Regions from separate parts of the Homo sapiens genome. Here regions 1 and 3 are each linked to region 2. Evidence: fine-mapped expression QTL. A gene starts in region 2. Each other region holds a variant in brackets. All regions are shown on one strand. Distances are between the middles of the regions.

Region 1 (2,763 bases), 52 kb after region 2:
GGATGCTGATATTTCAGAGCTGCAGTCTGTTTGGAACCTCACAGTACCGCAGTCTAACAAAGAAGTGCCAGCTTTGTTTTAGATTTAAAAGAGTATCATCTAAAGGATCTGACATTACAGACAAAAGAGAGGTAACTCACTAATTCCATCAGATGTATATTTTTTCTCATTTTGCAATTCCATCAAAGCAGTATTGCTCTTGGCCATTTACCTGTTTTTGAATAATGAGAGGTATCATGATTTTCATCAGTGAGGGTAATATATGTAAAACTTGCAAACAATTTATTCCTCTAAATAAAGTAAAAAACTATGTTGCTAGAGAAGTACTATTGCTGCTGACTACTAAAGGTAGTTAAGAAGTCAAAGTGTTTTATTATAATACAAATAAAGTGAACATGTAGAAATCTGTTTATTATTACGTTTCAAGTTTGAATATTTTGTTTTCTTTTTAAGAAGAAGCAGGGCAAAACAAACTGTGCCCGTTGCATTCCTTGCCAAGGTCAATGCTCCATATTTTGTCTGACTGTTTAATTTAATAGCATTCAAGCACAGAAGCAATCAGGAGGCCACTCCTATTGGTAAATCCATGCTTATAAAGAAAGCATGTATTTCAGAACTTAGGAAAAAAGCTGTTTGTTAAGCCCAGACCTAGTTTGAGATCTTTTTGAAAAGTGCTTATAATTTTCCAGAATTCTAGGATTAACTCAAGGAAATGCACAACAGAAATATGTAGATTTGACAGTGGCTTTTTTCTTCTGTTCAAGTTATCTTAGAGTCTTTTTTTTTGTTTTTGTTTTTGTTTTAAATGAAGCAGTTTTGAGATTCATTAACTGGTTATCTTTTGTCTGAGTTTTACCAAAGTGATCAAAAAATAAGGAACTATTGACTTTTGGTAATTAAAATACTCTTGGATTTTTTTTTTTTAGTTAAAGTTCAGGACCATTCACTTGGTTCTTAAACAATCTTGTTTTAACCTGAAGAACTCTTGATTTGAAACTTTGAAATCCTGAGAAACATTTTTTCTATGACTCTCAAAAATAACTTCAGATTGCAATTTGTTCTAAAGAGGATAAAGTAGATATACCATGCTTGTTTTCTTTTCCTTAATTGAGTTTCATTTATGTGATTAACTTAGATAAAAATACTCTAATTTGATTTACTGAAGCAGTCAGGATGAAATATTTTGCATAGTGAAGTGTGCTAAATCTTTAAAACTATTTCTAGAGTTTTTAAAGAAAGAATTTTAAAATGTAATGTACGAAGGTATAATTCTGTGTATCTATACTTTGTTTCTCCCTCCCCTCTGCATCTAATAAGCCCCTCTTTTCTTGTTCCTTTTGTAAACATGAGTTGCTTATGGCTTGTGTACTGAAAATGCTGCCAGGAAGTAGGGTGAGCATAACTTCTTTTCCCATGACCCTCAGTCTAATGTTGTTCCAAGGGTTCC[T/C]TACTTAGAAATGCCTTGATAACCGCATTCATTCCTGACATACCCCACCCCCAACACACACAACTGCTGAGTGCCATCTGACCCACAGTCCAGCTGCAGCTTTTAAAAATACTAGTGGCAAAGGCTTTTACCTAGAACGGTGACTATCTGTGAAAAAATTTTGTGTGTGATTTGTTTTTTGCGTGTTGAAATATTATTTTTTAAAGAAAGTTACTTGGTGTCAGCCTGCAAGTTAAAGGGTTATTAGTACAATTTTTTTTTTTTTTTTTAATTTTCAACTCACTAAAGCTTGCCTGTGTATGTTCATCCTTTTTGTATGATTTCTGGAAGTTTTCCTGTTGACAGTGAAGTCTAAAATGCTAAGACCTTTAGATTCTCTTGTTTCATGACTTTTATTATGAACATAAAACTTTTAAAAAAGACCTGGTCATGCTATGGCCTCTCCCTTCTCCCAAATTTTATATGATACCCTCAGTTTTTTTTCCTTTGGTGCACAAGGGAAGAAAAACGTATTTGCTGAGTAAACACTTGGGCACTGAATTTATTTCTCCCATCTTCTAAAAACTGTGAAGTGAGCACTAGCGTTCTTTTATATGTAGAAAATTGAGAGTGCAAAACAGGTTAACTAATTTGCTCCAGGAACAAAAGCTAGTCAGTCATGGAACTAAGATTTGAACCTGTCTGTCTGATACTAAAGTGCTATTCTTTGCCATTTGAAGGCAGTATCATTCATGCCATGAACATTAGCCAGAAGCTTTATGGTATAGGGGGAGGAGAATGGAATGTGTAGAGGAAAAGTTCTTGGAAAGCAGAGTTTGATGTAGAATGGTTCCTGAAAGTGAAGGGGATGGTGCCAGCAGTTGCAAGATAAAGCGATGGGGTAGGTACATTGCTCCTGGCAGCTGCTCCTTCTGCCTCTCCTGTTGTTGAGTGTCAGATTTTGCTGCTCCAGGGAAGATTCAACCACTGTTAAAGTTTGGCACAGGGTTGATGAAGCTTTGGAACGTTACTTACTGGATTATTTAAAAAAAATATGTCTATCAAGAGAAGAATAAAGAGGGTATCTGTGGTTATACTTTAATTAGTTATTCCTGGAGAGGGGACATGTGGCCTTATTCTAGTCCCATGGGCTTGAGGGGGAAAGCAGACAGATTTATTTGACTGACTGTAAGGCTCCTTTGCAGATTACATAAAGAGAGAAAATAAGAAATTTTATTTATTTATTTCTTTTTTTGAGATGAAATCTCACGCTGTCTCCAAGGCTGGAGTGCAGTGGCAAGATCTCAGCTCACTTCAGCCTCCATCTCCTGGGTTCA
Region 2 (2,763 bases):
GGCGTGCGCCACCAGGCCCAGCTAATTTTTGTATTTTTTAGTAGAAACTGGGTTTCACCGTGTTGGCCAGTATGGTCTCCAACTCCTGACCTCAAGTGATTCTCCTGCATCAGCCTCCCAGAATGCTGGTATTACAGGCGTTAAGTCACTGCGCCTGGCCCATACTGTTTACATTATCTTATCTGTTTTAGGTTTACATGTTATTTTTAATGTTCCTGTACATTTAAAAAATTGAAACCAAGAATCTTGACTGGCTCTGAAACTTAATTGGGAAAAATGTAAAGCACTTTAGTGGAATTTTTCCCATGATCTGTAGAATAGTTTTTAAACAGATGGTTCATATGGACAAAGCAATGAAAATGCAGAAATTAAAAGCAGATCCTTAAGAACAATATCCGAGTTCTCAGAAATCCTATAGATGATGTCAGGACGAGATGTAAAGCAGTCGTTTCTTTTGCTGTCAAGGTTTTAAGAGAACAGAAATTTATTAGGTGAACCTCCACCGGAGGAAGGATAAAGCCTGTGGGTAGGAGTTAACTATTTATTTCAAACTCCAGTCCACTTCAACAATTTGAAAATTTTCCCGCTCCTAGGACAATTCCATCCAGGTGCCAATAGGAGATACTACTATTGTGATGCAAATAGGTATTCTACTAGAAGTAGGAGCACGTAAGCAGAGTGAGGATGACTTGAAAAATCGTCCCACCTTCCCAGCTATGGAGTGGGGGCAGGGGGAAGAAACACCTCCAGGCTGGATCATTGAAGCTGAGGGGTGGGAGAGCGACGGGACAATTTTTCAACGTGGAATTCAAATGCATTCGGTGGGGAAGTGTGAAGTAAAATCTAAACGAACGCTAGACAGTAGTATCTTCCATCTACGCTTCAAAATACTCAGACTTTAGGGAAACTTAACGTTGGTTTTTCTCCCAGAGAATTGTAGGGAGTGGGTGGAGGGGACACTGTTAGGGGAGGTATATTGGGAGTCAGATCCTTTTGTGGAGCGAGGGACCCCGAAGTGTCACCAAGGGCTAGCCGAAACCAGGGGCCCAAGAGGGGACAGGGCTAACACCCCAGCCAAGGCCGGAGCGCAAGCGCGGGGCTGCAGCGCGGGGAGCCCTGGAGCCCAGTGCGGGCGGACGGGTGGGGCAGGAGGGCAAAGGGGCGAAGGGGCGGGGTGGCGCTGGGTGGGAGCGCGGCGGCGGGGAGGAGGGTCTGGGAGCCCGGGTGCGATTTGCAAGCGCTCTGAGCCTGCGTCCGCCGAGGGGGAGGGTTTCCCCAGCCCGGCCGGAGTTGCGGCTGTGCGCTGCTTCTGGCTCACAACGCCGACGACTGTCAAGAGAGTTGGGGAGTGGAACTGCCGGAAGTGTCTGCGCGCCGTGAGAGAAACTTTCCTGCTCCGGCCGCGGCCCGGAGCCTCGCCGCCCCCGCGTTCCGAACGACGATGCGTCCAGATGACAACAACCTGAGGGGACTCGCGCCTCGGCCCGCCGCCCGCGCCTGCGCTCGCCTAGCCTCGGGGGAGGAAGACTGAGCCCGGCGCAGGCGGCGCGGCGCTCGGGGCCCGTTTCCTCCGCGCAATCAGTCCCCTCGCGTCCCGGCGCCTTCCCCGCGATCGCGCGACCCCAGCGCCCGCCGCGGCCGCCGGCTGCCCCCGCCCTGACCTCCGGCCCGGACGTGTCCGCGGCCGCCGCTGGCAGCGCCTGTGCCATGGGGCTGCCCACTCTGGAGTTCAGCGATTCCTACTTGGACAGCCCAGATTTCAGGGAGCGCTTGCAGTGTCACGAGATTGAGCTGGAGCGAACCAACAAGTTCATCAAGGAGCTCATTAAGGACGGCTCTCTGCTCATTGGGGCGTTGAGGAGTAAGTAGGGCTGGCGGGGGAGTGGACACCCGCATCTGGAGAGTCCCCGCGGGGTGCGGGTCCGAAGGGTGGGTTGGAGGAGTCGGAGCTTCTTTTGTTTGAATGGATTTGGGGACAAAAGCTGAAGAGCTCCCCTGCTGGTGGCCAACAAAGTTTGTTCTTGAGGTGTTCTTTACTTACTCACATGTCTACAGGGATGGGGAAAGTTCTCTACAGGGCACTGGAATATATCCTGAGGAAAGTCGTTCAAAGTCATCTCGTTGTGTAATGCTCCTAGGAAGATGTTGGGGACTTTAATTTTTTTTTTTTAATTTATTGTGTCTATTAATAGTTTGAACTAAAAAAGCCCTTAAGGGGGGAATCAAGAGTTTGTCTTAAAGATAAAATTAGGCTAGTTTAGTGATATTGAAAGAAAATTATTAATGTCTCTCATACGTCAGTGGCTCTTCATTGGACACAGTCATTGAGTTGGCTTTTTAAAAAGCATACATTTGCAGTTTTGCCATTTTGTAAGATAATGGAAGACAGCAAGGCACCAGTGCATTTTAACTCTGCAAGTTTTCTGTGCGTCTTAGTTTTGGTTTGCATTGTGTGGGTGTTGGGTGTGTCATTGGGATGAAAGTTAAGGGGTTAAAGGCCAATCAGAACTTTTGATGATCTGTAGAATATAAAGACTGTTATAGTCTATAATATAGGGCTTCTTCCACCTCCTTTCCCATACACCTCTTGATCAAATTTTCCTTCCTCCTTTTATCCTCTGGATCTTAGCTTTCAATTCCTAAGACCTAAGAGTATCTGAAACTGAAGAGTTTCTCTTACAGAGAATTGAGCACAATTACATGATATGGCTTGTTACCTTTCCCAGGAGGTATTTGCATCTTTTAAAAAATTTATTTTTATTT
Region 3 (2,763 bases), 95 kb before region 2:
TAAGTACCATGTGGCAATCAGAAGAATGTATATTCTGTTGCTTGGGGGTGGAGAGTTCAGTAGATATCTATTAGGTCCGCCTGATGAGAGCTGAGTTCAGGTCCTGAATATCTTTGTTAATTTTTTGTCTCAGTGATCTGTCTAATATTGTCAGTGGGGTATTAAAGTCTCCCACCATTATTGCGTGAGGGTCTAAGTCTCTTTGAAGGTCTCTAAGAACTTGCTTTATGAATCTGGGTGTTCCTGTATTGGCTGCATATATATATTTATGATAGTTAGATCTTCTTGTTGAATTGAACGCTTTACCATTATACAATGCCCTTCTTTGTCTCTTTGGATCTTTGTTGGTCTAAAGTCTGTTTTGTCAAAAACTAGGATTGCAACCCCTGCTTTTTTTGTTTTCCATTTTCTTGGTACATTTTCCTCCATCCCTTGTCTTTGAGCCTGTGTGTCTTTGCATGTGACATACTGGCGCCTTAATCTTGCATTGTAAGCAATGAATTTCTGTTGTTTATAAATTGCCAAGTTCAAGGTATTTTTTATAGTAGCAAGAACATTCTAAGACAGAGGAACAAAAGAGTAACTTTGCAGCGGAGAAGGTTGGCAGATATCACCTTGCTCAAGTAATGAATGCTAACAGAAACAATAATAAAGCAAATCAAAATGATGTGCCATCTAATATGATGCAAAGATAAAATTCAACATCATTTCTGTGATGTTCCAATTTAGTCTAATCTTAACCTAATCATGACAAAATCTGACAAATCTAGAATAAGGAATATTCTACAAAAACAAGAGCCTGTCAAAAGTGTCGAGGTCATGGAAGTCAAGCAAAGATTACAGAGCTGTTCCAGATTGAAGGCGACTAAGGAAAGATGGTAACTAAATGCAATTCCTGATTCTGGGCTGGACTATTTCCTATAAATGACTTTTATTGGTAAAACTGGCAAAACTGGAATTGGGCCTGTGGATTAGATAGTGATCCAATTTAACTTTCTGATTCTCTGGATTGTGTCATACTGGAAAAGACTCTTGCTTTTTGGAAATACACAATAAAGTATTTGGAGGTGATGAGACATCCTGTCAGAAACTTAGTCCCACATGGCTCAAGAACTAAAAGTTCTTTATATTACTCTTGAAACACTTTATACATTAAGATTCTTTTAAAACATATGATTTCTTAGAGTGAACCTTTTCCACCCAGTCTTTTTGTCTGACTTCCAGCATGTCTGATTTCTTTAGTATCATGCTGACACAACATGTCAATTTTTTTGTATTCTTAGGCTGCAAGGAAACACCCTTATTTATCTATTCATTCATCTATTAAACAAACACTTATTGATCACTCATTAGGTCCTAAGTAACTTGCTGCATTAAGGATCTAACTGAAAAAAAAAAAATCCAGCACCTTCCTCCAAGGAGTTTCAGGCTAATAGGGAGACAGAAAAATGAGCAGGTAATAGACGATATGACAAGTGATTATCTGTAGGAATACCAGGTGGTATGGAAGAACAGAGGGGAGGCATCTTAGGATGTGTTCAGGAAAAATGAGACCTGAAGGGAAACTAGGAATTACCTAGGAGGAAAGTTCAGCAGGTGTGTTGCCAGCAGGCAGAGGAAAGAACATGCAGAAGGCAGC[C/T]GGAAATGAAAAACAGGGAACATGACCTGTTGTAGATACTGCAAGCAGCAGAGAATAACTGAAGCAGAGAGTGTGCAAAGGGAAGGGTCAAGAGATGAACATAGGAAGGAGGGAGCCTAGGGGATGACCGGCTGCCCATGCCTAAAACACCTTCAGCACCTGCTACACCTATGTCTTCCAGGTTATTACAACCAGCTCTGGTAATCTAGTCACAGGACTTGTTGCACCCACATCAATACTCACACGCCTTCCAAGAAAGTGGCTCTGAGGAGAGCACGGTTTAGCAACCCTAGAACTGTTGGATATTAACAAAGTGAAGCACGTCATTTGCAGCAGCTTCCCTGACAATGTTAGGTTTCTTAGCCAAGTTTTGACAAGTGTTTTTTGAAAAGAGTTATTGGCATACTTGCTTGCATATCATCTTTCTTCCCAGGATAGAAAGATATTTACAAATGATGTCTGGCAACATAGAATTGGATATTTTTTACTCTCCCTAAAATACTTGCTCTATTCTAAACAGCGCATCGCAGTGCACTTCTCCTTGGCAACCTTGTGGTTTCCCTGAATACACATCCAATTACCCAAGTGGTTGCTATTGCACTGTGGCCTGTTTTCACTTTGGGTGGCAGGCCCTCAGTTCCCTGCTGCCCACTCAACAAGACATTCACTAATTCCAGAACTCCTGGGCAAAGAATTCCTTCAAATTAACCATGAGCTTTATTTTTAGTGTAAAAGATGTTTGCTTGATAAAAAAAAATTGTTTCATGTAATTATAGTCATTAGAAATGGGAATGAGACAATACTTGGTGAACTGATCCCTCCATCTGGTTAGGGTAGGATTATTCCCTGTGACAGATTGGCCATGCTAAACTATACAAACTGAATGAAGTGAAACCCAGACCATCTGTGCATGGAGCCATTTCTAAGTGGTTAGTACTGCAGAGACCCCTGGATAAGCATTTGCATTGAGCAGTGTAGTAGCACCTGACATCCTCACGGTTCATTCATCCAGCAGCTTGTGGTCAGTTGCTTACTGGATCCAAGGCCAAAGTATAAACAGAATGTCTTGGGTTTCTCCCAGTACAGTTTAAAGCATGTCAATAGTTTGGTTTTGGCCTCTTCTC

Which allele goes with the higher level. Alleles are on the strand shown, and positions count from the first base shown. SD is a standard deviation of normalised expression in the study named. Not every link is listed here.
For the expression in tibial artery of the gene that starts at base 1,317 in region 2, T is the high allele of the variant in region 1 and C is the other (moderate effect, 0.70 SD a copy in GTEx).

Evidence for each region. PIP is the estimated chance that this variant, and not a neighbour inherited with it, causes the effect.
Region 1: its variant is fine-mapped to the expression of ARHGAP42 in tibial artery (GTEx, PIP above 0.99).
Region 3: its variant is fine-mapped to the expression of ARHGAP42 in whole blood (TOPMed, PIP 0.98).

Annotation. Positions count from the first base shown.
Region 1 is chr11:100,738,368-100,741,130 of GRCh38, forward strand. The region is part of intron 1 of ARHGAP42 (Rho GTPase activating protein 42); the gene reads left to right. Among named protein-coding and RNA genes, the nearest start is that of ARHGAP42-AS1, 52 kb to the left of the region's middle. The variant T/C (reference allele first, on the strand shown) is at 1,448.
Region 2 is chr11:100,685,972-100,688,734 of GRCh38, forward strand. It overlaps ARHGAP42 (Rho GTPase activating protein 42), which reads left to right and starts at 1,317. Exons shown (of 24, transcript NM_152432.4): 1 at 1,317-1,861. The coding sequence starts at 1,708. ARHGAP42-AS1 (ARHGAP42 antisense RNA 1) reads right to left here and starts at 1,984. Exons shown (of 2, transcript NR_133571.1): 1 at 1,662-1,984. RefSeq lists silencers at 687-981, 1,032-1,221, 1,522-1,691 and enhancers at 918-1,628, 1,342-1,391, 1,712-2,081.
Region 3 is chr11:100,590,899-100,593,661 of GRCh38, forward strand. No RefSeq gene overlaps it. Among named protein-coding and RNA genes, the nearest start is that of ARHGAP42, 95 kb to the right of the region's middle. The variant C/T (reference allele first, on the strand shown) is at 1,640.